4 linked regions of the Homo sapiens genome follow. The protein of the gene in region 3 interacts with the protein of the main gene of each other region in a biochemical or structural test. Each region holds a gene or a part of one and is shown on either strand. Other genes may lie near its edges.

Region 1 (3,721 bases), on a different chromosome or scaffold from region 3:
AGGACATCTACCTGGAGTAGCCTGCCCACCGCTCTGTCTCCTGGCCGTCTGCTCCAGGCGCAGCTGGGGCTGAGGATGTCTCAAGAGGCCACCATGGCTTTGGCAAGGACTGGATTGGGGGGACATGGGACCTTACGCTTGTGGGGGTCTGCGGGCTGGGAACTCTCGTCCTCGGTCCCCAGGGCGCAGCTGTTGGGGCTGCGGGGGAGTGGAGCCCCCGTGCCCCTGCTTTTCCTCAGATCCGTTCTTTCTCTGTGTTGTCCTCCTCCTTCCCTTCCCAGTCTCCCTTTTCTCTCTCCTGGTGTCTCTGCCCCTCTCTGTGCCTGCAAACCTTATCCTCTATTCTTCACTTTGGGGTCAGAACTTCGGGGGTGTGGAGGAGGTGCGGCTCTAGGGACAGGTAATGTCGGCTTCCAAGTGATGCCCTCCTGCCACTCCCCTGCGATTTATAAGGGAATTTTAATTTTTATAGTGAATCTCAAGGGATCATCCCATCCTTGACCACAGGGACAAGAGGGGCCCCCTCGCCCCAGCCCCACCCCACATGGAGCTCAGGGGGAAGCAGGGAGGGGTTCCCAAAAGAGCCCTGCGGAGGCTAGGAGTGGTTCTTGATGCTCACCTGAAGCCCCTAGACGCTGCTAGGAGGGGGGGCCCTCCTGGGCCCCCAATACCCCTCCGCTTGCCGCTGCTAGCGCACCCCTGCAGTCCAGCGTGCATCCACCCCACGCACGCCCCGTGCTGTGTTCCTGGGCCCTGCCCATGGCCTCAATAAACTCTCTGCTTGGTGTGACATTGGCTGTTTCTAGAGGGTGCTAAGACATGGGGCCAGGTGCCCAGGGGCTGCCCATTGTGGTAGGGACAGAGTCCCCAGTGGCGGGAGTGTTGTGGCAATCTCACCCTTTTAGCTCTTTCCGAAATTGTGCCGGGGGTCCCTGCGGTGCTGCTCTGGGGCCTTATCTGAGGTGCCGTATCTAGAAGCACCCTTGGGAATTCTCCCTAGATACACTCGATTGGCCACAGAGGAATCCGAGGCTGTGCAATGGGGTGTCCTTTCCACGTGCACGGACTGGGGGCCAGCACGGCTCAGGTCAGTGTGTAGTGGGGGCATGAACTCCTTGAAGAACAATCTGGCCGGGCACGGTGGCTCACGCTTGTAATCCCAACACTTTGGGAGGCCGAGCCGGGGCGTATCACCTGAGGTCAGGAGTTTGAGACCAGCTTGGCCAACATGGTGAAACCCCATCTCCACAAAAAATACAAAAATTAGCTAGGTGTCCTGGCGCACACCTGTAATCCCAGCTACTCAGGAGGCTAAGGCATGAGAATCGCTTGAACCTGGGAGGCGGAGGTTGCAGTGAGCCAAGATTGCACCACTGCACTCCAGCCTGGGCGACAGAGGGAGACTCCGTCTCAGAAAAAGGAAAAGAAAAACAATCTACTTAGATCTTAAAATGGATATTTAAAAAATTCTCCAGAGAAAGCCAGAAGAAAATAGGTGACTTTTTCACTATGTGCTTAGGTGACTGCAGATGCCCGGCAATGTTCCCTCCCAGGCCCTCCTGGGTGAGCCCGCCTCCCAGGCAGGGGTCAGCATGGCCGGGGTCCCTCTGTCTGAGCCCAGGATTCGTGCAACACCAGGAAGACAACAGTTGAAGGTTCCTTAGTGAGCTAAGGGAAGTATACACAAACTTACTACATAAACATTAGAAAGTGCTGTCCGTAAAAAACACGTCTTCACAGAGCCAACAAGCAGAGAAATAGCTGCCCAGTGTTAGGAAGTGCATCATGATCCAGAGGTTCAGCCCGTGTGCAGCGCACAGACCTGAGGCCCCAGAGAGACCGAGGACGCAGACCAGTGGCACGACGGAAACGCAGAACGTTTATGAGAAAACTTTCCTACTAATTGAGATAAAGCTGTAAAGAGGCAGATAGCCCCACTGGGTGTGTACGTTTGAAACTTGTGCCCCCTGGGCTAGGGCATTCGGGGTGTGGCCCTCAGTCCCCTGTAGCTGCTGCCTGGAAACCGCTGCCACCCACCCACCTCCTCCCTCTGCTCTTCCACTCAGGTGAGAATTCTCCAAGCCCTGCCCTCCGGCGCCCCCGTCCCGCCCCTGCCCGGCCTGGCCCCGCCCCTGCCCGGCCCCGCCCCCCAACGTGTCTTCAGGTCTCTTTCCCTCCAGCCGGCCCTTAGGACGGCTGTTGGACGTGCTCGTGAGTCCTTCGCCTGTCTGCCTTCCACCTCTCTGCAGCTCCTTCTCCAATCTCATGGTCTTCTTGAGCTTGGCCGCCCTCCACGCCCCATGCTGGGCTTGGTCGGTTCTGGGGTCTACCTCTCTGGCTTCATCCCTCCCACAGTTTCGAGGGTTTCCCTGTGCTCAGGCCCCTGGCAGCCGCCCCCTGTGCAGACCACTGGGCAGATCCAGCTGACCTCCAGGGGCACTTCCTCGGCTCATCACTGGGCCGGTGCTCTGCAGAATGAGCTGTGAGAGCCACTGTGGCTGGCCAGAGGGTGCCACTCACAGTCACTTCAGACTCACAGGAGCCTTCGTCCCGACCCCTGCATTCATCTGTGTTCTGTTTTATGTTTTTTCCCAGTCACCTGAGCTGCAGGCCTTGGTCACCCCAGACTCCTCCCTCCTGTCACCCTTATCCTCACCCCAGCACCTTTACGTCTGCCCCAGGCTCCATTTCCCCCTCTTCTGCCTGGATCAAACCACCCTGACTTTCCTGGGTCTTCGTGCAACAGCCTGCTCCGGCCGCTGCCTCACTGCACCTGCAAATCCACTTGCACCCACACCCAGGCCAGGGTTTTTAAACAGAAGCCTCAGCAGATCCCTCTCTCTGGCCAGCTCCCTGTTGAACCAGGAAGCAGGTCCCTGTTGAACCTCAGCATGACCCGCCCCCACCCCTGCATCCCACTTCTGCTCTGGGAGCCTCTGGGTTCCTGGGCGCACCTGCTGCCCTTCCCTGTTTGTCACTGGGTGACCTCCCGTCCTTGTGGGCGCTCCCGGGCCCTGGTCTCGGGCCTTCTGAGGACTTGCTCTCCTGGTAGCGGCTGCTGACTGTGAGCCCAGAGAGCAGGCGTGGCTGTTGACCTTAGGTCCTCCCAGAACCTGGCGGATCGCCTGGCTCCCAGGCAGGAGGCGCTGCATGACGCCTCCAACTTCCGCCAATCTAGCCCAAGGATGGCGTTCTAAATAAAACGCGTTCTACAGAAAAGTGTTTATTGCATTCTTCTTTGAAATAATGTAAGCATAAAAGTAATCTGAATATTGACCAATAGGGTTAATTGATTAAGGTATATTTACCTAATTGAAATATTGGGTAGATGTGAAAAAAAGTTCCAATGTTTGTAATTACACAGAAAATTTCTGTTATGCTATTAAGTGGAAATAAATTTCTGGGCACAGCAGCTCATGCTACTGTGTAATCTTAGCAATTTGGGAGGCCAAGGTGGGCAGATCCCTTGAGTCTGGGAGTTCGAGACCAGCCTGAGCAACAAAGCGAAACCTCTATCTCTACAAAAAAAAAAAAAAAAAAATACAAAAATTATCTAGGTGTGGTGGCACACACCTGTAGTCCCAGTTACTTGGGTGGGTAAGGGAGGAGGATAGCTTGAGCCTAGGAGGTTGAGGCTGCAGTGAGCCATGATCATGCCACCACACTCTGGCTGGAAAGAGCAAGACCCTGTAACCACAATGAAAGAAAAGAAGAGAGAGAG
Region 2 (7,035 bases), on a different chromosome or scaffold from region 3:
TCCAGCTGTTTATAGTGGTTGGTTACCTTTGGGTATGGTATGGGGTGAGGGATTTTTACTTCTTATTTTACATACTTTTTTTTTTTGAGACAGAGTCTCACTCTGTCGCCCAGGCTGGAGGTTGGAGTGCAGTGGCATGATCTAAGCTCACTGCAACCTCTGTATTCTGGGTTCAAGCGGTTCTCCTGCCTCAGCTTCCCAAGTAGCTGGGATTACAGGTGCCCACCACCACGCCCGGCTAATTTTTGTATTTTTAGTAGAGACGGGGTTTCAACATGTTGGCCAGGCTGGTCTTGAACTCCTGACCTCAGGTGATCCACCCATCTCAGCCTCCCAAAGTGCTGGAATTACAGGCTCGAGCCACCACGCCCAGTGTCATACTTTTATATTACAGGTTGAGTATGCCTGATCTGACATGCTTTGGACCAGAAGTGTTTCAGATTTCTAATTTTTTTGGATTTTGGAATATTTGCATATGCATAACGAAATAGCTTGGGGATGGGAACCCAAGTCTAAAAATGAAATTGATTTTTTCTTATATATCTTATACATATAGCCTCAAGGTAATTTTATACAATAATTTAAATAATTGTGTGCATGAAACAAAGTTTTGATTACAACCTGTCATGTGGAGTCAGGTGTGGAATTTACAGCCTGTGCTGTTATGTTGGTGCTCAAACATTTAGGATTTTGGAGCATTTCAGATTTCAGGTTTTTGGATTAGGGCTGCTCACCTGTATTTGACTTCTTATTTTATAATGAGTATAGGTTACTTCTGTGTCTTACAAAATAATAAAAGAAAATTCAAAATTAAAGTGATACATGTTCATTATAAAGAAAACTCTAGAAAAGAGAATTTAGAAATTTACACAGTGGAGACATTGGCACTGGGTAGGTGGGACAAAGAGGAGGGGCAGAAGGACAGTTCACGTGGGAGGAACAGCAGAGACAAAGGGGGTTTCATGGACAAGAAGGGAGCGAGCGGCCTGTCTGGGGTGTGTAGAAGGGGAATCGTGGATCTGAGAGACCTTAGAGACCAGCTCGTCCAACCAGCTCCCTCCCCTTATGAGGAAACAAGAGAGGGCGAGTGGCTCCCCCAAGAGCACACAGCAAATTAGTGGCAAAGCTGGGATAGAGCCAGGCCATGGCTGCCTGGATGGTTGCCATCTGCCCCAGCACCCTGCCTCAGGGATGAGAGATGGGGCCACCGAGAGGCTTCTTCCTTCATTCACTCAACAAACGTTTGCACTTTGCCTAGGTCACCAGGGAAACACTGCAAAGGCCCAGACGTGGGCCTGGCCATCATGCTATTGGTGTTGTAGAGGGGAGACAGACAGACAGACGGCTTTACAGATGGGCTGGTCGGTGTGATGATGGCTCAGGTCAAGGGACCCAGGCTCAGCGGGTCTAGACAGGCCCCCCAGAGGCAGGGACATTTCAGCTTAGGCCTGGTGGACGCATAAAAATATCACCCAAGGGTGTCACTGGAGTGAAGGGCGGAGACCAGAGCGGGTGGGCAGGGTGTCTGGTGCCCAGTCTGGCAGGAGGGTGGAGAGCAGGATGTGCAGGAACTTGTAGGCCATGTGACGATGCCGACCTCTTCACCAACAGCCAGAGGAGCTGGCAGGGGGTTAGGAAAGGAATGACAGGGTCAGACAGATCCTCTAGGACAGGGGTGTCCAATCTTTTGGCTTCCCTGGGCCACATGGAAGAAAAATTATCTTGGGCCACACGTAAAATACACTAACACTAACGATAGCTGATGAGCTAAAACACAAAAACATCTCATAATGTTTCAAAAAAGTTTATGAATTTGTGTTGGGCCACATTCAGAGCCATCCTGGGGCTCACGCACCCATGGGCCATGGGTTAGACAAGCTTGTTCTAGGAGGATCACCTGGCTGCTGGGTAGAGAGCGGCCAGGGGACTAGCCATCCTGCTGGTAAGAAGGAGGGACAGGTTCAGGGTGTGAGGAAGAGTTAGGGGGCAGATTAGCCTGCTTGGTGAGGGATACAGAATAGGGAGTGGGGAGGCAGGAGTCTAGGATGATGCTGGGGCTCCTTGGTGGGTGGGGTGTCCAGTGGGAGACCAGAGGGCGGTGGGCAGGGTGTGAAAATCATGTGGGAACCTGCTGAATTTGAGACTGGGGATCATTGGAGGACCCAATTGGAGGAATCATACAGTCAGTCGGTTTTGGGTCTGGAGCTCAGAGGAGAGGATAGGGCTGGGGCCAAAGACCCTGGGAGTCTGAGTTTGGAGGGATGGCCACTGAAGCCTCAGAGAGGACATCACTGTCCAGGGAGACTGAGCAGAGGGCAGGAAGATGGCTGGCCGGTGGCCTGTTCAGCCAACCATGTTTCGGTGGAGGTGGGGAGGTGCTGCTGGAGCTGCCTCATGCCCAGGACCGCCTTGGCCTGGCTCCTGATGGACCTTGGATGTGGAGGCAGAGAGTGTTGACTTGCCTCACACAGTCCGGCAGTGGCCAGGGCAGAATTTCAACCCCAGCTCGCTGATGGCAGAGCTTTAAAGTTCGTCTCTGGATTGCTGGAAATGGGCCACAACACACTTCTAGCTTGGGGCCCCCATGGTTCCCACAAATTGGGTCACAGCCACCATCCACACGTAGTTCTTAATCATTCTATGATGCCATCTTTGTTCCCTGGCCCCACTCTTGTATTCATTCCAAAATAGCAGGAGCGTCTCTGGGTGCTTTGCCTTGTTCCGCCACTGGAGATGCCAGTGGAGAGCTCATGGCTCCTGCTGTCATGTTGCTTGCAGTGCCTCTTTAATAGGCACTGATTTAGCACCTATGGTGTGCAGGGTTTTGGGCTTTGTGCATAGATTGGAGCAAAGGTGGGGAGTCAGTGCCCAGGTGAGTATGATGACCCTGCCCTCAGGAAACTTGCAGCTCTGGGGAGGGCAGGCAGCCCAGCAGCAGACGGGGAGCCCATGCTAGGCTGGCATGACCCAAGATGAAAGTCTGTGAAGGACAGCAAAGGAGAAAAGAGCGCCCCAGATTCTACCCCATCTCACAACTCTGTGTCCATGTGAGTGTTTCTTCCTGTGTGCAATATCATCCTGGGGAGACCACTGGATCATATATGCTGTCTTTTTGCTCATTTTATTAGTTGTCACCTTAATACACAGACTTTATAATGTTGATTCCAAAAGACTGCATCACATTTCATCTGCTGATGGCCACGATGGAACCAGCCCCCTGGTGCTGGGTGACGCAGGTGTTTTCAGTTGTTTGCTGTGATGAGGAATGAACATCCTGTGTGTAACAGTTCTTCTCCAAACAATGTGGGATTGTTTCCTCGAAGCAGTTTCCCAAAAGTCGAACAACTGGATCCCAGAGTTCTTGCAATGTATCAGCATGAAGATGTTTAAACAGATCAAACATGTTATAACCGCAAGTGGGGTTGTCCCTCGGGGCTCATTTCTTTGGTTGGATTCAGTTTTCGTTGGAGATGACCTCCGTATGGAGGTGGTCAGGAAGGGAATTCTGACCCAAAGAACAAACCCAGCCCAACCCCATGTTCACCCAGAGCCAGGTGGTGGGGGTAGAGCGAGGGCCTGAGAGGGATGCTGGGTCTGGCTCATCCCCACCCCACCGTTTCAGCCAGCACCGTCTTCCCAGAGGACCTGACATCCTAGCCCAGACTCTGGTGTAGGTGGGGACACAGGAAGTTGATTGGAAAAGTGGACTAACTTAGAGATTTCCAAGGCAAAAATCCAGAGAGCCCTGGGACACCTGTGGTTAATTCATTCAGCATTTGTCAAGTACCTATTAGGCACCACACATGTTGATCAAAACAGATATGATCCCACCCATATGGATTAACTGACTCCAAGGGGAGGCCACCGCGGGCCGCATAACCCAAAGGTAAAATTACAGTGATACGGAACCACAGCCAGGAGGGACTCCGAGAGCCCATAGCAGGGCGGTTTGGCTTGGTCCCAGAGGTCAGAGAAGGCTTGCAGAGGAGACCATGCTACTGCTTTGGGAGCTGCGCTATTGAAGGAGGAGATAAAGGTGGGAGGTGGGGGGAATGAAGGGAAATGATACTGGTTGGAGGGAAAGGAGGCTTTACAGAGCCTTCAGGCCACAGATGAGAATTTGGGCCCCTTCTCCTAAGGACCAGGGGAAGCTATTAAAGGGCTTTGAGCTGGGAAGAGTGACCAGACCAGATTTGTAATTCAGAGGTCAGCTTTGCTGTCATTACCTGGTGGAGAGTGGCTGGTAGAGGAACCAGAGGGAAATGGGGAACCCACTTAGGGTTGAGCGGCCAGTCAACAGGTGTCCTGAGAACTCACTGGGAGCCAGCTTCGTTCTCAGCACTTAGAGGGCTGCAAAGAGGCAGGCTGGATCCCTGGACCACACGTGCCCTCTGTCACAAGAGAGGCTTGTGGGGCATTGTGGCCAGGACCCAAGGTCAATCAGCTGGCATCCTTACCTCCTCACCACAGCACAGCCAGGAACACAAAGGCCCAAGAATGACATCTGAACAGCCAATGCCTGGCTCAGATTTGGCCTTGCTCAGCTAAAGCCTCAGCACTTTACCACTTAACCTTTGCTTTACATACACTTCTAACTCAGCCTACTACGGAGCTGAAATAGTCCGTTAGAAAGGGCAGGACTGTGGTTGGTGGAAATGTGACCCAGCAAGGCAGGGGAAAAGGGCCTGAAATCAACATCAGAACACAAAAGGCATGTTTGTTCAGGGCCATTTAGAAAAGTGCAGCTCAGGGTGGGGTGGGAGCAGGAGCTGGTATGGCGAGAACAGTGAGGAGCTGGCAGGGCAAAAGCAAGGACTGGGGCAGCAGAGTAGGAGGGATCAGGTGAATGCAGGAACAGGGCCTCAGGTAGAAAGGTCAGGGCGGTCTCCAGAGACCAAACTCACAGCTCAGAGCCACCAAACGTTAATATGGATGACGTCTCAAGGATCACAGCATCCAGGATAGACAAGCAGGTCTGATGGGTGGGCAGGGGCTGCTTCTACAGGAGACTGCTGAAACTTCCAGACCCAGAGGTGAGGGAGGCCGGCCTGCGGAGGGCCGTAGGATTCAGTTTGGAGGCCTCCTGGTGCTAAGGCTGCCATGAGCAGGGTGGATCAGGCGGGACAGGAGGGAACCGCCCTCTTTTCCCCTTCTTCCCCTCCCTTCTCCCCTCCATCTTTTCCTCCCTCCTCCTTTCCCTCCCTTCCCCACATTGACCTTCCATGAGCCTTCAGGGACCAAGTGTCTGTTTAGCCTTCTCTCCATAAAGGGACCCCCCAGGGTTTTAGCTGGGAGGCCAGAACATCTGGTGCCTGGAAAAGAGGAAAGGGCAGAGTCTTGGATGGGGGGTGACTTGCACAGGGTACTCTTTGACCAATCAGTCCCCCTTGATCCTTGGTAGTGACCTCCTACTCACACAAATTCCATTCTGCTAACCCTCACCAGCCCTCTGAGGTGGGTGGGCAGGGATTGGTGGCTTCATCCTGTATCTGGGAAGCTGAAGCATAAGGCACCTTTATGTCTAAGCCTTAGTGTTCCTCATCTGTAAAATGGGAAAAATGGAACAAACCCTCTCCCAAGGTTGTTGCAATGAGGATTAAGAGAGATGCATGGCATAAATGTTGGGGCCAAGATGGGGCAGCTTCAACGTGAAAGAGTCAGGATTTATTTCAGGCCTCCTGCTTCCAAGCCTGATATGGTGATCATTCTTCCATCCTGCCTTACTTATGAGAGGCACCTAAAAAGTCAGACAAAGCATCCCCCTTAACCCACCCCAGTAGAGCCAGGGATCAGGCATAGGCTCTCTGACCCCCAGCCCAGTATTCTTTCTAGCATTGCCCAATTAAAGCCCAGTGCCCTCAGCTGTACAGGAAGAATGCTGCTGTCCTTGCCCCACCCAGACCTATTGTCCAAGGAAGTGGGAATATCAGGTGATGTTGAGGGTGTAGAAGTGAACTGAGAAGCCTCTAACCCAGGTCTAAGCCAGACCCTGCAGGCCCTGCTCCAGCCTGCAGTTCGAGAGGAGCAGGTGGAGGCAGAGGCTGTCCTGTGACAGACATCTAGCAGGCTCATGCTGAGGACTCAGTGTATGCAGGATGAACTCGCCAGCTCTGCCCTCCAGGAGCAAGGGGAGGAAGGGGTCTTGATCACCTGCTGGGTACAGTATAGGGTCATCAATCAGGGTGCTGGATACAGGCCCCATCCACCTTTGGAGCAGCCAGGGGGTGGGAAGTGGGTGTTTCTGAGGGAGGGCTGGCCCTGTCTGCTGCACACACTACTGTACATCCAGGCAGATGGTGACATCAGCCACATGCAAGGGCTGGGAGGGCTTCCTGGAAGAATGAGCTTAACTGAGCACTCTTCCAGCAAGCATGGTTTGAGAGTCTGCCACGTGCTCCCTCTGAGCACTGGGTTTGGCACTGGGGAGACACAGTGCCCACGCAGACTACGCATGGAGCTGGAGGCCTTGCCTGCAGGCACAGGAACCTGCTGCTAGTGGAGAGCCTTGAGGGTTCCAAGTGGGGCGGGAGGGATGATGGCATTTCTGGCAGTTTTGCCTGATAGTGGCAGGTGGAGTGGGATGGTGCAGGCATAGGGAGACTGAGACAGACAGGCCAGTGGGGACATCTGGGAGGGCAGAGGCAGGAGCTGGACTAGGGCTTGGCAGTGAGGAAGCGGAGCCATGTGTGAGGAGACACAGATGTGTGCAGGGGGGCTGGGCACCATGGCTCACGCCTGCAATCCCAGCACTTTGAGAAGCCGAGGCGAGCAGATCACCTGAGGTCAGGAGTTCAAGACTAGCCTGGCCAACATGGTGAAACCCTGTCTCTACTAAAAATACAAAAATTAACCAGGTATGGTGATGCACACCTGCAATCCCAGCTACTCAAGAGGCTGAGGCAGGAGAATCACTTGAACCCAGGTGGCAGAGGCTGCGGTGAGCCAAGATCATGTCATTGCTCTCCAGCCTGGGTGACAGAGCGAAAGGCCGTCTCAAAAAAAAAAAAAAATATATATATATATATATATATATAT
Region 3 (7,035 bases):
CAAAGGAATAAGTTAAGTGTCCCCCCCCTCCCTCCTTCCCCAATAAATAGAGTGAACATCCTGCCCAGGGCCTCCCCCACCTTGTGGCATGGCGGGCTGGGGCAGGGCCTGGGGCGCTACATTCATGGCTGCCCAGGCGGGCGGTGGTGGGCAGGCCTTAGTGGGAGCCGTGGGCCCCGCACAGGGGCACTGTGCTGTCTTGGTTCTGCCCCTCCATGTCCATGTCCAGCAGTGTGGGCTGCACGCTGGGGGGCCCAGGGCTCTCCGGAGTGTCTGGCCTGCTGGGAGGCGAGATGGTGAGTGTCCGGCCGAAGGAGACCAGTTTCCAGGGGTCCAAGCGGGGGCGACTGGCAGCCGGCCGAGGTCTCGGGGCAAAGGTCAGGGTGGTGGGGCGGCCTGGGAACTCAGGGGGCCGGCGGCGGGCTGGGAACAGGGCCTGGGGGTCGGGCAGGCGGGGGAAGTCCAGAAGGTCACGAGGGCCTGGTAAGAGAGGTTCAGAGGAGGTGAGTGGGGTGGGGCAGAGGGTGGCATTAAAAAGCCCAGAGCTGTTACATGAAAAGCACAAGTTCTGGTTTCTCTCGAGAAATCCGTGGATCTTGCTGCATCCAGTTTCCATCTGTAGTGTGGCAGTGCTGGGACCTTGACCTAGACTGGGACCACTCCCAGCTGCTTGCTCCTCTGGGTGGACCCTGGCATGTTCCTCAACCTTCTGGAACTGCTGCTTAGCGGCAGCCTCGGGGGCCAAAGCCCTGGTCTTCCCGACTCTCCTGCACTGGGCTAAGCTCAGGCATGGCTTAGCTCTGAAGGGGGATAAAAATGGTGCCTCACCACGCAGGTGAGGAGCAAATAGAATAACCATAACTTAAAACAAGCAGCACAGTGCCTGACGTGGGTACTTAATAACACTGCTATGGCCGCATCTCCCACCCAGTTAACAGATGGAGGAGAACAGTGTCTAGGCTGTGTAAGAATTGGCGATGGTCATGCTGGTCACAACCGCTATAGGCACCTGCCTGGCCTTATAGGCATCAGTTTGCCGCCTGTGTCTCAGTCCCCTGGAGACCCCCGATGCCTCCAGGAGTGAGCGGTAAAGGGACACAGACCCTCCCTCCTCCACAAGAAGCAGGAGGTGGCTGCCTGAGGGGTCGTGGCTGGGCTGGACTTGCGACCCTGGCAGAGGAGGAAAGAAGGGGTTTTCTGTGACCTGGGTGCAGGGCGCCTCACTCACCAGGGCCATGGCCCGCGGGCTCGGGCGGCCCCCGCTGCCCCAGCGCCCCGTCCGATGGCGTCCGCCGGTGCCCGCGGCTCACAGCGCATGCAGCCGTGACGTGGGTGGGCGTGAGCGACTGGCGGGGGTCCTTCTTGAAGCTCTCCAGCTCCAGGTCCACCAGGGGGTTGGTGCTGGGCGAGGGCGTGGGTGTGGGCGCGGGCGGGGAGGGTGGTGGGGAGGGCGCGGCCGGTGCGGCCTCGTCACTGTCAGAGCGCAGCAGTGAACGCGTGGAGTTGCAGTCGGACACGGACGACAGCGACACGAGGGTGGCCGAGGGCGCCAGGCCCAGGCCGGGGCCCACGTCTTCGCGGCGGCCGTGGGGACGCGCGGGTGGGCTGAGGCCCCGCGGGAAGCGGCCGGCGCGGGGAAAGAAGAGGCCGTCGAGCCAGCGCCGCTGCTCCTCACCGTCGGCCGCGCGCGCCTCGGCCACGTCGGCGCCCAGGCCCACAGCCCCCAGCAGCGTGGCGCAGCCTAGCAGCGCCAGGTCGCAGCGCCGCCGGGCGCCGTGTCCCCACCGAGCGGGGGGCGCGGACGGCGTCGGCTCCCACGGCGCCCGCGCCCCCGGGGAGGGCTCGGCAGGCAGTGGCACTGAGAGGTAGGACGGGGTCGAGTAGGGGGAAGGGGGCACGCTGCTGCCTCCATCCTCTGCCTCCGCGAACTCCTCTGCAACCGGAGAGGGCCATCACTCCGCTGCAGGGCTGGCCAGGGCCCCACGGGGACTTGTGCCAAGGGACAGCCCCCGATGACCCCTCCAACAGCAAGACCAAGACCCACGAGCATCGTTCTTGAATCTGTCTCCAGGAGAAGCCTCAGAGAAGGGTGGTCCCTGCCCCTGGAAATGACCCCCCACGCCCCAGGGGCCACCATCTCCCTTCCCAGGAAGGCCTTCCACTCACTGGCCCAGTGAAACCTGGTCTCTTCGCTCAGCCCCAGGAGGCTCACCCCTTTGGCCAGGGAACCCCCACCCCCTTACAAGAACCCAGGCTCTTACCCATCTCATTGAGGCTGGCAAAGCCAGGGGCGATGGGTGTGTGTTTGGGGGACTTGCCCAGGTTGGGGGCACTTGATGACCACTGTTTGCTTCCTTCCCCCAGCCCCTTCAGCCTGCGGGGTCCAGGGAGAGATGGAGACCTCAGTCCTGTGGCCTGGAGCCTGGGAGCTGGGGCTTGGGCACAGGGTGGGCATGACCACACCACACCTCACCTCTCCTCTCCTCCCACCCGCTCCTTCTGCAGGGTGGAGCTGGGCCCCCACGTTCGTCCCTTCTTCTTGCCCCCGACCAGTTCTTCCTTCTTTGGGGGCCCACCGCGGCTCCATGTCCCACTTCCTCCACTGCTGCTGCCACTGCTGCTGCCACCACAGTCCACGGGAGTCACTGGGTCCAGAGAAGCCACTTGGTTACTGGGTGGAGGATCTGTCCCCACTGGGCTCCCAGCCTCCAGTGCCCCCAGCTCAGGCCCACCCTCCGCCTGGGAGTCCAAGGGCTCTTTTGAACTCCAGTCATGACCCTCCCTGCTATATATCTCCCCATAGCCCCCTACTGCTGTCAGGACAAGGTTCCAGCTCCTCCGCCTGGCACTGAAGGCCATGAGCGGTTCCCTGCCAACTCCTCCAGCCTCCCCTCCTCTTCACAGCCTAACCCTTCACCATTCATTCTGGCGGGCTGCCTGCGCTTCTGGTCTCCAGCTCTGGGTAGTTAGTTCCCTGGGGGTCAGCTGCCTTCATCTCTGTACCTGCAATGCTCTGGACCTATCTGGTGCCAGTGTTTGCTGCCATGGTATGGGTATTTGTCTCTGTGTCCCCTGCAGGACTGACCTCCTGGGCCTGGTACAAAGCAGGTGCCCAGACAGAGGGCAGGGGGGCTGTGGGTGGGGACAGTGCTGGGGTGAATGAGGTGTTGGAACTTGGGAGCTAGCCTTTCACCCTTCAACCCACCAGGAAACTCCGATGACCGTGTCTCTGCCATATAGCCCCGACTGTGGACATCTGTCCCTTCCAAGTCCCCCACCCTGGCCTGGCCTCCATCATCTCACTGCTTTCTCCACCTTTATTTCTTACAGCAGCCAGAGGGAAAAAGGTCAATTTGATTCCCTCAGTGCCTTGCTCGCATGGCTCTGGGGGCTGCCCCAGGGCAGTTAAAAGAAAATCCATACCAGGCCAGGTGCGGTGGCTCTTGCCTGGAATCCCAGCACTTTGGGAGGCCCAGGCAGAAGAATCACTTGAGGTCAGGAGTTGGAGACCAGCCTGGCCAACATGGTGAAAACCCCATCTCTACTAAAAATACAAAAATTAGCCAGGCATGGTGGTGCAGGCCTGTAGTCCCAGCTACTTGGGAGGCTGAGGCAGGAGAATCGCTTGAACCTGGGAGGCAGAGGTTGCAGTGAGTTGAGATCGCACCATTGCACTCCAGCCTGGGAGACAGAGCGAGCGTCTGTCTCACCATGGAATACTATGCAGCCATAAAAAGGAACGAGATCATGTCCTTTGCAGGGACATGGATGGAGCTGGAAGCCATTATCCTCAGCAAAATAATGCAGGAACAGAAAGCCAAACACTGCATGTTCTCACTTATAAGTGAGAGCTGAGCAAATAGATCACATGGACACAGGGAGGGGAACAACGGACACTGGGGCCTGTTGGGGGGTAGGGTGGGGGAGGGAGAATATTAGGAAAAATAGCTAATGCATGGGCTTACTACCTAGGTGATGGGTTGACAGGTGCAGCAAATCACCATGGCACACGTTTACCTATGTAACAAACCTGCACATCCTGCACACGTACCCCAGAACTAAAAACAAAAATTAAAAACAAAAAAATCCATACCAAAGGTGTCAAATGAAAATTAAAAAAAAAAAAAAAAAAGAAAGGAAAATCCAGACTCTTATCCTGCTCTCAGGGCCCTGCCTGATCTGACCCCTGAGAACTCCCTGATCACAAAACCTATGTCCTCCTCCCATTCACTCTGCTCCAGCCAAACAGGTTAACAAGCAGCCCATGCTGTTCTCACCTCCAGCTTTTGCCTTTGCTGCTCCCTCCGCCAGGGGCATGCTTCCCTGAGGTCTCAGCCTGTCTCACTCAGCAGGAAGGTCCCTGCTCAAACCTCACCTCCTCCCATAGGGCTTCCAGATGGAAAATCGCAACCCTTCTGTGATGGGTAATTTTATGCGTCAACTTGACTGGGCCAAAGGACGCCTAGGTAGCTGGTTAAACATGATTTCTGTGAGGGTGTTGCTGGATGATTAGCATTTCAATCAGTGGACTGAGTAAAGAGAGATCATCCTCGCCAATGTGGGTGGGCACCATCCAATCCACTGAGGGCCCAGACAGAACAAAAAGAGAGTTAGCTCTTTTTGTCTAGGAAGGCAGAGGAAGGGTGAGTTTGCTCTCTGCATGAGCGTGGATATCCATCTTCTCCTGCCCTGAGACACTGGACATTGGTGTTCAGGTTCTCAGGTCTTTGGACAATTTTTTTTTTTTTTGAGACTGAGTCTCACTCTGTCGCCCAGGCTGGAGTGCAGTGGCACGATCTCGGCTCACTGCAACCTCCGCCTCTCAGGTTCAAGTGATTCTCCTGCCTCAGTCTCCCGAGTAGCTGGGATTACAGGCATGCGCCACCACGCCTAGCTAATTTTTGCATTTTTAGTAGAGACTGGGTTTCACCATGTTGGCCAGGCTGGTCTTGAACTCTTGACCTCAGGTGATCCACCTGCCTCGGTCTCCCAAAGTGTTGGGATTACAGGCGTGAGCCGCCGTGCTGGGCCAGGTCTTTGGACTTGATTTGGAACTACATCACCGGCTTTCCCGCACCTCTGGCTTGCAGAAGGCAGATTGCAGGACTTCCCAGCCTCCATAATCGTATGTGCCAATCCCTCATAATACATCTATTTCTTTTGTTTTTGTTTTTGTTTTTTTTGAGACGGAGTCTCGCTCTTTCGCCCAGGCCGGAGTGCAGTGACGCTATCTCGGCTCACTGCATGCTCCGCCTCCCGGGCTCATGCCATTTTCCTGCCTCAGCCTCCCGAGTAGCTGGGACTACAGGTGCCTGTCACAGCACCTGGCTGACTTTTTGTATTTTTAGTAGAGACGGGGTTTCACCGTATTAGCCAGGATGGTCTCGATCTCCTGACCTCGTGATCCGCCTGCCTCGGCCTCCCAAAGTGCTGGAATTACAGGCGTGAGCCACCGCGCCTGGCCTTTGTTTTTGTTTTTAAGTAGAGATGGGGTCTCGCTTTGTTGCCCAGGCTGGTGTCGAACTCCTAGGCTCAAGCAATCCTCCCACTTCATCCTCCCAAAGTGCTGGGATTACAGGTATGAGTCATCGTGCCCAGCCAATACATCTCTTTCTATATATCTAAACATATGCTGTTGATTCTGTTTCTCTGAAGAACTCCGATTAATACATCTCCTCTTTTATTCCCTTCCCTGAGCTCCTTTAAAGAACTTATCACTACTAGAAATTATCCTGCGCCCGGGCGCGGTGGCTCATGCTGTAATCCCAGCACTTTGTGAGGCTGAGGTGGGTGGATCACTTGAGGTCAGGAGTTCGATACCAGCCTGGCCAACATGGTGAAACCCCCATCTCTATTAAAAATACAAAAAATTAGGCAGGCGTGGTCATGTGTGACTGTAACCACAGCTACTCGGGAGGCTGAGGCAGGAGAATCGCTGGAACCCAGGAGGCGGAGGTTGCAGTGAGCTAAGATTGCACCACTGCACTCCAGCCTGGGAGATAGAGCGAGACTCTGTCTGTCTCCAAAAAAAAAGAAAAAAAAAAAAAAGAAATTATCCTGCTTACTGACTTATTTGTTTACTATCTGTTTCCTGTGATAAGAATGAGGAAAAGGGCCTTGTCTGTCTTCTTTCTTGCTGTTACTCTGGCTTGGTGCCAGGTATAAACATCGTGCTAAAAAATGTTTGTTCACTGACTGACTGACTGGTCAGGGCCTTGGGAGATACTCACGGCGAATGGCCCTCAGCCGGGGGATGATGCTGGGGCTTGCAGGGGGGCTGGCCCCATCGGATCCTTTCCGCTTATCCAGAGTTGGAGAGGCCTGGACTGTGATCTTATGCTCAAAGCCTGCAGAAAGAAAGAGAAGCTTTCCTAAGCAAATGGTTCCAGGGATTACCAAAGGGAATTTTCTTCTGTAGAAGTAGAGAAGGAATTCTAGAATGGGAACACCGCCATTTTTCATTCCTTAATGCAGTGGTTCTCAGAGTGTGGGCCCCAGAACAGCAGCATCACCATCAGCTGAAAATTTCTTGGCAATGCAAATTCTTGGGCCCTCCCTGAATCAGCAAGTTGGGGTGAGGCTCAGCAATGGACTGTGGTTTAATAAGTACAAGCACAAGAGCTCTTGTGGATCAAGGACCTAGGCCTCAGTGTCCAATATGGCCGCCAGTAGCTACGTGTAGCAGCTGAGCACCTTGAAATGTGGCTTGTGCAATGGGGGAATTGGAGTTTAACCTTTATTTATCTAATTTTTAAACTGTATATATATATATATATAAAGGATGAGTTCTCACTGTGGTGACCAGGCTGGTCTTGAACTCTTGGCCTCGAGCAATCCTCCAGCATCCGCCTCCCAAAGTGCTGGGATTACAGGTGTGAGCCACCATGCCCAGCCAACTCTTTATTTTATTGTAATTACCGCAATTTGAGTTTAAATTTTAAAAACAGGTATGGGGGCTGGGCGCGGTGGCTCATGTCTGTAATCCCAGCACTTTGGGAGGCCGAGGCAGGCGGATCACGAGGTCAGGAGATTGAG
Region 4 (7,035 bases), on a different chromosome or scaffold from region 3:
CGTGTTGAATTAAACTAAATCCATATCATAAATAGACTAGAAGTCTTCCAAGCAATTTTACCTTTTTTAGTGCCTCATTTTTTTTTGAGGCATTACTGTTGACTTTACATATGATTTAATTTTTAGCCACCACCTCAAATTTATGATGCCCAGTTGGAAGAAAGAGAACATGCAATTGAAGAATGGAAAGGTAAAGATGGAGCTTATTTTGATCCTTCCTTTTGACATTTCTTCCAATCCTGTAGAGCAGAGGCTTTTCATTTTGTGACATTTCCCTTCAGGAAGGGGCAAGAAACCCTGCGACCCACTTAGCCTCTTTCTCCCCAGTTTCCAGTAGAAAATGAACTTGAAGAGAACAGAGTTAGAGAGGAACATTTATGAATTTCTTATCATTTGCTTCAAGAGGGAAAAATAATATTTTTTTCATGGCTTTTCACATATTGATTTATAAACTGAGCTTAGTAATTGTATCATACTTATATTGATTGATATGTTTTTAAGCCATGTAGTTGTACATATGTTTTAAAATCTAGTTTGGGGGAAATTGCAGATTGAAAATATGCAAATAGGTATTATTACCACTATAAGATTAACCAAACAACCCACAACAAACTATACCTGTAATGAAGAGGTTGAACTAACAATTTTTCATTAAGAAGCAGGATCAGTAGTAACTGAGAACCACAGTCAGAGTCAGTCAACACTGATGAGGGTCATGCCCCAGGGCCATCCTGGGGTGTGGGAGTGCCGGTTACCTGTGTGTGCCCGTGCTCAGCAGTGCATGCACACAGCGTGCTCACTGGCCTCAGTCAATGCTCACTGGCCTCAGCGAATGCTTGCAACGTGCTAATGTTGGTTTATGAATACTGACATTTTAGGAATCCCTCATCACTTACTTCGTAGGTAATTAGTTTTTCTTACAGATGAAAGTTGAGGAAAACCGAAGTTGAAATTAAGAAAAGACTTAGGCCTGTGGATTCATTTCTGGCCAGTGTGGGGGGCTCCTAGCCCACATGTGGGTGCTGGTTACCTTTGGAGAACCCCAAGTAACCACATAGAGAAACATATTCAAATGGGTGTGAGAATATCCAATCCCCTACAGTGTTCTGTGGGAGCCACTCCACTTCATAAAGCCCCCTTATGGATCCAGAACCACCCTACATGTTTTGCTGCCTTACTAGTTGCATTGAAAAAGATGTAATGTAGTCCAGGCGCAGTGGCTCACACCTGTAATCCCAGGACTTTGGGAGGCCAAGTGGGGCAGATGGCTTGAGGCCAGGAATTCAAGACAAGCCTAGCCAACATAGCGAAACCCTGTCTCTACAAAAACTACAAAAGTTAGCCAGGCATGGTGGTGAACACCTGTAATCCCAGCAATTTGGATGGCTGAGGCATGAGAATCACTTGAATCCAGGAGGTGGAGGTTTCAGTGAGTCAAGACCATGCCACTGTACTCCAGCCTGGATGACAGCATGAGACTGTCTCAAAAAAAAAAAAAAAAAAAAGAAGAAGAAGAAAAGAAAAGATATAATGTATCAAAATATGAATATTTTGGTCCAGGTAGACTATATTACTGAATTGACTCTGTCTTACAATTAAAAATAACAAATCGCAATGCCTTTGTTCCAGTTGATTTGGAAGCAGAGTTTAGAGATACAGTGAAACTGTTTAGAAACTGATTAAGCATTTTAACTTGTATTTTTATTAAAGAGCTAATTTACAAAGAAGTCATGGATTGGGAAGAAAGAAGCAAGAATGGTGTTGTAAAAGATCAGCCTTCAGGTTAGTGATTGCTTTAATTGATTGTATGATATTTTTCTTTCCCTATTCAACTTTTTTTTTTTGAGACAGAGTTTCGTTCTGTCGCCCAGGCTGGAGAGCAGCGGCGCGATCTCTGCTCACTGCAACCTCCGCCTCCTGGGTTCAAGCAATTCTCCTGCCTCAGCCTCCCGAGTAGCTGGGACTACAGGCACGCGCCACCATGCCCTGCTAATTTTTGTATTTTTAGTAGAGACGGGGTTTCACCATATTGGCCAAGCTGGTCTCGATCTCCTGACCTTGTGATCTGCCCGCCTCAGCCTCCCAAAGTGGTGGGATTACAGGCACGCACCACCATGCCTGGCTAATTTTTGTATTTTTAGTAGAGACGGGGTTTCAGCATATTGGCCAAGCTGGTCTCGATCTCCTGACCTCGTGATCCACCCGCCTCAGCCTCCCAAAGTGGTGGGGTTACAGGCGTGAGCCACCGCACCTGGCGTCTTTCCCGATTCAACTTTTATAAATGGCAGCAACATGTGAAATGCCAGCCTGGCTAGCATCAGATTTAAAAACCGCTGTATGAATAGCCAGCCTTTTTGGCTTGTCATAGTGGTGGTGGTGGTGGATGACATTTTACTGATGTGCCAGGCACTGAACTTTGTTATAAGCATTTCTCTTTCATCTTTGCAATAACTGCTGTCACCTCCATTTACAGATGAAGAAATTGAATTTAAAGCCTTTTCAATGTTGATAACCCTTTGTACTGGTCCCACCCAAAATGCCAATCTAAGTAAAATGGAGTATGGTATTCTTTTTGAGAAAATTGTTGATATCATTTTCCCATTTTTCTGCTTGATCTACTGATCTTCATAGTGGTGGAAGCCTCTAATGACCAGGTAGTTGTATGATCATGAGACTCTGATATGAGTCGTGTTCACTTACGTCTGAAGGATTCTTCCTGTTTACTAAATGAAACGCTCACGTTATATCATTGTCTCTCTCCCACTCCCACTGGGAAGCATGCACACACATGTGTGCGGATGTGCAGAGAGCACAGCTTACTTTTTATTCTTGAATTTTATGTTCAACATGACGTATGTGTCAAGCATCTAGAGATTATATAACTTCAGCAAGAACTTAGGTGCTTGTTAACTGAGCACACACGTATGACTGCAGACGTCGATCTCAGAGAGTGCATGTTGTGTTTTTATTCAAACCAGACTAAAATATGGATAGTAGGAAGTAGGATAGTTTCATTTGCTTTAAAAGATTAAAATGTCAGTTTTCTGGAGTTATAAAACCATAAAATATACAAGGCCACTAATTTTTTTCCTTTTTCTGGTATATAGTCTTTATTTATTGCAAAAGATTTCTTTGAAAGTTGATGCTTTTTTTCCTGTAGATTTAGTGTTTATGTTATAAATTGTTACAATTCAAGTGTCTGGTGACACTGGAATCCTAGTCAGGCTTAAGCTTTTGTGATACTGCATTTTCAGATAAATATAGCTGTGTCCTTTTGATGTCTGCTTGAAAGCAGCAGGTATTTTTTAAGTAGCTAACATGATTATACATGGCCACATATATGTTTAGCTACTGAGAAAAAAAGAAGAATCTTGCAAGGAAAGACATAGGAATATGGGACTCTTGGCCCAAAGAAAGACTCAAGGAAAAGTTCAGAAAGTCCAGCTGACTGACTTCTTGTCTATACTCATAGTTAGGATTGGGAAACTGCAAAAGGACAGAGCCGAGAAATGGCCTGCAGTCTCGCTGCCTGGATTTGCAGCAATGTCGTGCCTCAGATTTTATTATATTTGGTTTTCTTAGCACAGATGCAGCAGTAAGTAGCAACGCCACTCCTTCTCAGTCTTCATCGATCAATGACATTTCATCCATGTCCACTGAGCAGACGCTGGCCTCAGACACAGACAGCAGTCTTGATGCCTCGACGGGACCCCTTGAAGGCTGTCGATGATAGGTTAGAAATAGCAAACCTGTCAGCATTGAAGGAACTCTCACCTCCGTGGGCCTGAAATGCTTGGGAGTTGATGGAACCAAATAGAAAAACTCCATGTTCTGCATGTAAGAAACACAATGCCTTGCCCTACTCAGACCTGATAGGATTGCCTGCTTAGATGATAAAATGAGGCAGAATATGTCTGAAGAAAAAAATTGCAAGCCACACTTCTAGAGATTTTGTTCAAGATCATTTCAGGTGAGCAGTTAGAGTAGGTGAATTTGTTTCAAATTGTACTAGTGACAGTTTCTCATCATCTGTAACTGTTGAGATGTATGTGCATGTGACCACAAATGCTTGCTTGGACTTGCCCATCTAGCACTTTGGAAATCAGTATTTAAATGCCAAATAATCTTCCAGGTAGTGCTGCTTCTGAAGTTATCTCTTAATCCTCTTAAGTAATTTGGTGTCTGTCCAGAAAAAGTCGATTTATGTGTATTAATTGGCCATCATGATGTTATCATATCTTATTCCCTTTTATGCTATGATTTATTCTATCTTTTGTATTTCAGAAGACATATAATTAAATCTATTTAATAAATAAAAATATATAGCTTTTCTTAGATTTGTGATGTTTGGGGCTGAGAATTATCACGGCTAAAACCAAGACACTTATGTGGACATCTTGTTTTCTTTAAACTGTCTTGTCTGGGATGATTGTACATTCAGCTTTACTGCACGATACAATTTTAAGTTTTGCTTAGTGCTGCTTGAAATCCTAGCTACCTTATCTCTTTTCTTCTTGGTCTTCTAGACTTCTTATGAATTTAAAATGCTACCTAGAACTTCACCTTCTTTATTAGGTGCGTAACACTCCATCTTAATTAAATATGATGGCAGATAGGTTCCTGCATCCATGGCCTAACGTTGGAGTGGAATTTTACAAAATGCTCACTAGAGATCACTGCAGTCATTTCCTAAGTGCTTCCTTTGCCACAGACTGGCCTGGGTCCTTTATTTACCTTCCCTCATTCACTTTCCCTCGGCCAATACCACGTTCTTGATTTTCTTTCTTCACTGGAAGAAAGCAGATAAACTCCTCTTTGGTCTGTTTTCAGAGGCCAGGCTGATTCAGATGCCTGTTGCTATTGTTGCTCTCCATTGTTGGGAGGCATTCCTTTTCACAAGAATGTTCTGGGAAACTCTTCAGAGGACGTGAAGGAAATACCCTGAAGAGTCATGATTAACTATTGACTATTTTCTGATTTAAAACTGCTCACCTGAAATTGATACTTTTAGACTTTACGATCAGTAAATTATTCAGAATTCATGAAGATGCTGAGTATGTTAAGTGTCACTGCAGGAACGGAGCTGTGGTGATCACGTTTTGCCTGCCTGTGCCCATGTCTCTTCCCTTGAGCTTATTCTGTTGCTGATTCATATCTTGTGTTCAATTATTTTGGAAGCTTTTCAGTCGACATTCTGTAGAGTGTGTTCTGAGGAGGAACTGTGATAAGAAAGTTTATTATAAATATTATGTAAAATATATGGCTCTCTCTGCACCAGTTATATCTTATTGGTTGGTCATATCACTGGAAACTGGAACCTTTGATTAGCAAAATTAATATTGAAATAAGAAATAGTTCTTTTATATTGTGTCATTTGGACACTTTCAAGTACAAAATGGTAATAATAACTTGGATTGAGGCGGAAACACCTATTTTATGGCTATCTATCTAAACATCTTAAAATGGCCTTCTCTGTAATACACTTTCTTTTAAAAGACTTCACTAAATCTATCTTTAAAAGGAAAAACAAAAGGGAGAGGTTGAAAATGCGCGAGCTGCCCTGCACTGTGTGATGCTCCCTCCCCGGGAGACGTGGACGGGGGACGAGGCACCCGCAGACGCCCTTCTGCTCACTCGCTCCTCTGTGCATTCAGCGAGCCACTTGCCACAGATGGAGCCCGTGACGGTGTGGAGGGTTTCCTGGAAAGGCCATCTTCCACCAGGTAGAGGCGAGCGTGCCTAGGACAGGCCACAGGGCTCCACAGAAATACCTCACCCCAGCTTCAGGGTTCTCTCTCCTGAGCCTAGATTTGCCAGGGTCTTGGTGCCACGCAAATGGTTTCAAACTGATCTCTATGGATAAATGCTGATGTTGGTTAAAGAACTGAAAAATGTGCTCAACTGTTTCATCTTTTCTATTTTATTTTTGTAATTTATATTGTACACAACCCAGGAAGTAACTATTTTGGACATGTATTTTTATAAACCAGGTAATTTACTATTATCCTGGAATTTAGACTAGGTTTGTTTCATTTGTTGACTTAGTTTCCAGCCAAGAAGGAAACGACTGTCTCCCCCATGTCCAGGTCTCAGTTTCAAGGGCAGAGTCCAGAGAGCAGACAGAGTTCTGTGAGAGCAGGAGAGCAGTCTGGAAACCCTGGCTGTGCATACCGTGTCAGCCGTGGGCCTGGAGATGGGAGCAGGTGAGACGCAGAGCCCCAGTACTGAGAGGAGGAAGCCCTCTTACAGGGCCCCTTGCCCACCCCAAGTCCGTGTCTGAAACACGGAGCGGGTGCTGCTTCAACCCGCATTTAATGCTGTGTAAGTAGCGATAACCACGTACGAGTCTGTCTGGTTGATTTCTAATGTGACTCCTCTGGTATTTCCTCCTGGTAATAAATACAAGTGTGACCTTTCAGATTGCATATCTCAAAAGTAACATTGCTAATGTTTTATAATAAAATATATTATGTGTGTTTTGGTTGGTGAAAATAATACAGACTACATTTTAAAAGATAAATGTATAGCATGTCCAATTTTTGTGTGTTTTTACATGGCAATTAGATATTTCTCCATCACCATCTCTGATGACAGATTTAACATGAACACAGATAGATGATAAAGTGTCATGCTTTTGATCAATATTAGCAAGAGGTTTCACACTGAGAGGCAGAAACATTGCTGTTTGTTCTCTTATTGAAAATATTCTGCAAATTCCTAAATCTGTGTTTTCAAAACTAATGGCAGTAAGTTTTGACTTCACCAATATGCAGGTCCAATTCAGAGTATTGGTGTAATTGTTTTCTCATGAGGCGTGGCCAGGAGAATTCACCAGTCAGCCTTAGTCATGTTACTTAACGTCATTCATGGTGCTTGTGGCTTTGTGCCTGGGATGAGCCAAGTTCATCTGACGTCTGTGTTTGAAGCACTTCAGGCTGTTTAGTACTTAATACCACAGGAGTGGAAGGACACTCAGTGGCTCACTTTCTTTTCTCTGCTTAAAAGGACTAGAAGCATTCCAGAGAGATGAGTACC

The links.
Region 1: the proteins of MAP3K10 (region 3) and MAPK8IP2 form a complex in vitro, tested with the Homo sapiens proteins (one study listed by BioGRID).
Region 2: the proteins of MAP3K10 (region 3) and MAPK8IP1 form a complex in vitro, tested with the Homo sapiens proteins (one study listed by BioGRID).
Region 4: of the proteins of MAP3K10 (region 3) and MAPK9, one has a biochemical effect on the other in vitro, tested with the Homo sapiens proteins (one study listed by BioGRID).

The regions. Positions count from the first base shown.
Region 1 is NC_000022.11:50,610,760-50,614,480, forward strand, and holds the end of MAPK8IP2 (C-Jun-amino-terminal kinase-interacting protein 2), read left to right. Parts: coding exon 1-20; 3' UTR 21-3,219; downstream 3,220-3,721. UniProt on the Homo sapiens protein: The JNK-interacting protein (JIP) group of scaffold proteins selectively mediates JNK signaling by aggregating specific components of the MAPK cascade to form a functional JNK signaling module.
Region 2 is NC_000011.10:45,888,625-45,895,659, forward strand, and holds part of MAPK8IP1 (C-Jun-amino-terminal kinase-interacting protein 1), read left to right. Parts: intron 1-7,035. UniProt on the Homo sapiens protein: The JNK-interacting protein (JIP) group of scaffold proteins selectively mediates JNK signaling by aggregating specific components of the MAPK cascade to form a functional JNK signaling module. Required for JNK activation in response to excitotoxic stress.
Region 3 is NC_000019.10:40,208,415-40,215,449, reverse strand, and holds part of MAP3K10 (mitogen-activated protein kinase kinase kinase 10), read right to left. Parts: intron 6,348-7,035; coding exon 6,231-6,347; intron 2,646-6,230; coding exon 2,474-2,645; intron 2,375-2,473; coding exon 2,262-2,374; intron 2,062-2,261; coding exon of another isoform or gene 1,934-2,061; coding exon 1,229-1,933; intron 801-1,228; coding exon of another isoform or gene 784-800; exon of another isoform or gene 549-783; intron 481-548; coding exon 158-480; 3' UTR 1-157. UniProt on the Homo sapiens protein: Activates the JUN N-terminal pathway.
Region 4 is NC_000005.10:180,233,079-180,240,113, reverse strand, and holds the end of MAPK9 (mitogen-activated protein kinase 9), read left to right. Parts: intron 1-126; coding exon 127-190; intron 191-1,710; coding exon 1,711-1,782; intron 1,783-3,582; coding exon of another isoform or gene 3,583-3,587; coding exon 3,588-3,730; 3' UTR 3,731-6,971; downstream 6,972-7,035. UniProt on the Homo sapiens protein: Serine/threonine-protein kinase involved in various processes such as cell proliferation, differentiation, migration, transformation and programmed cell death.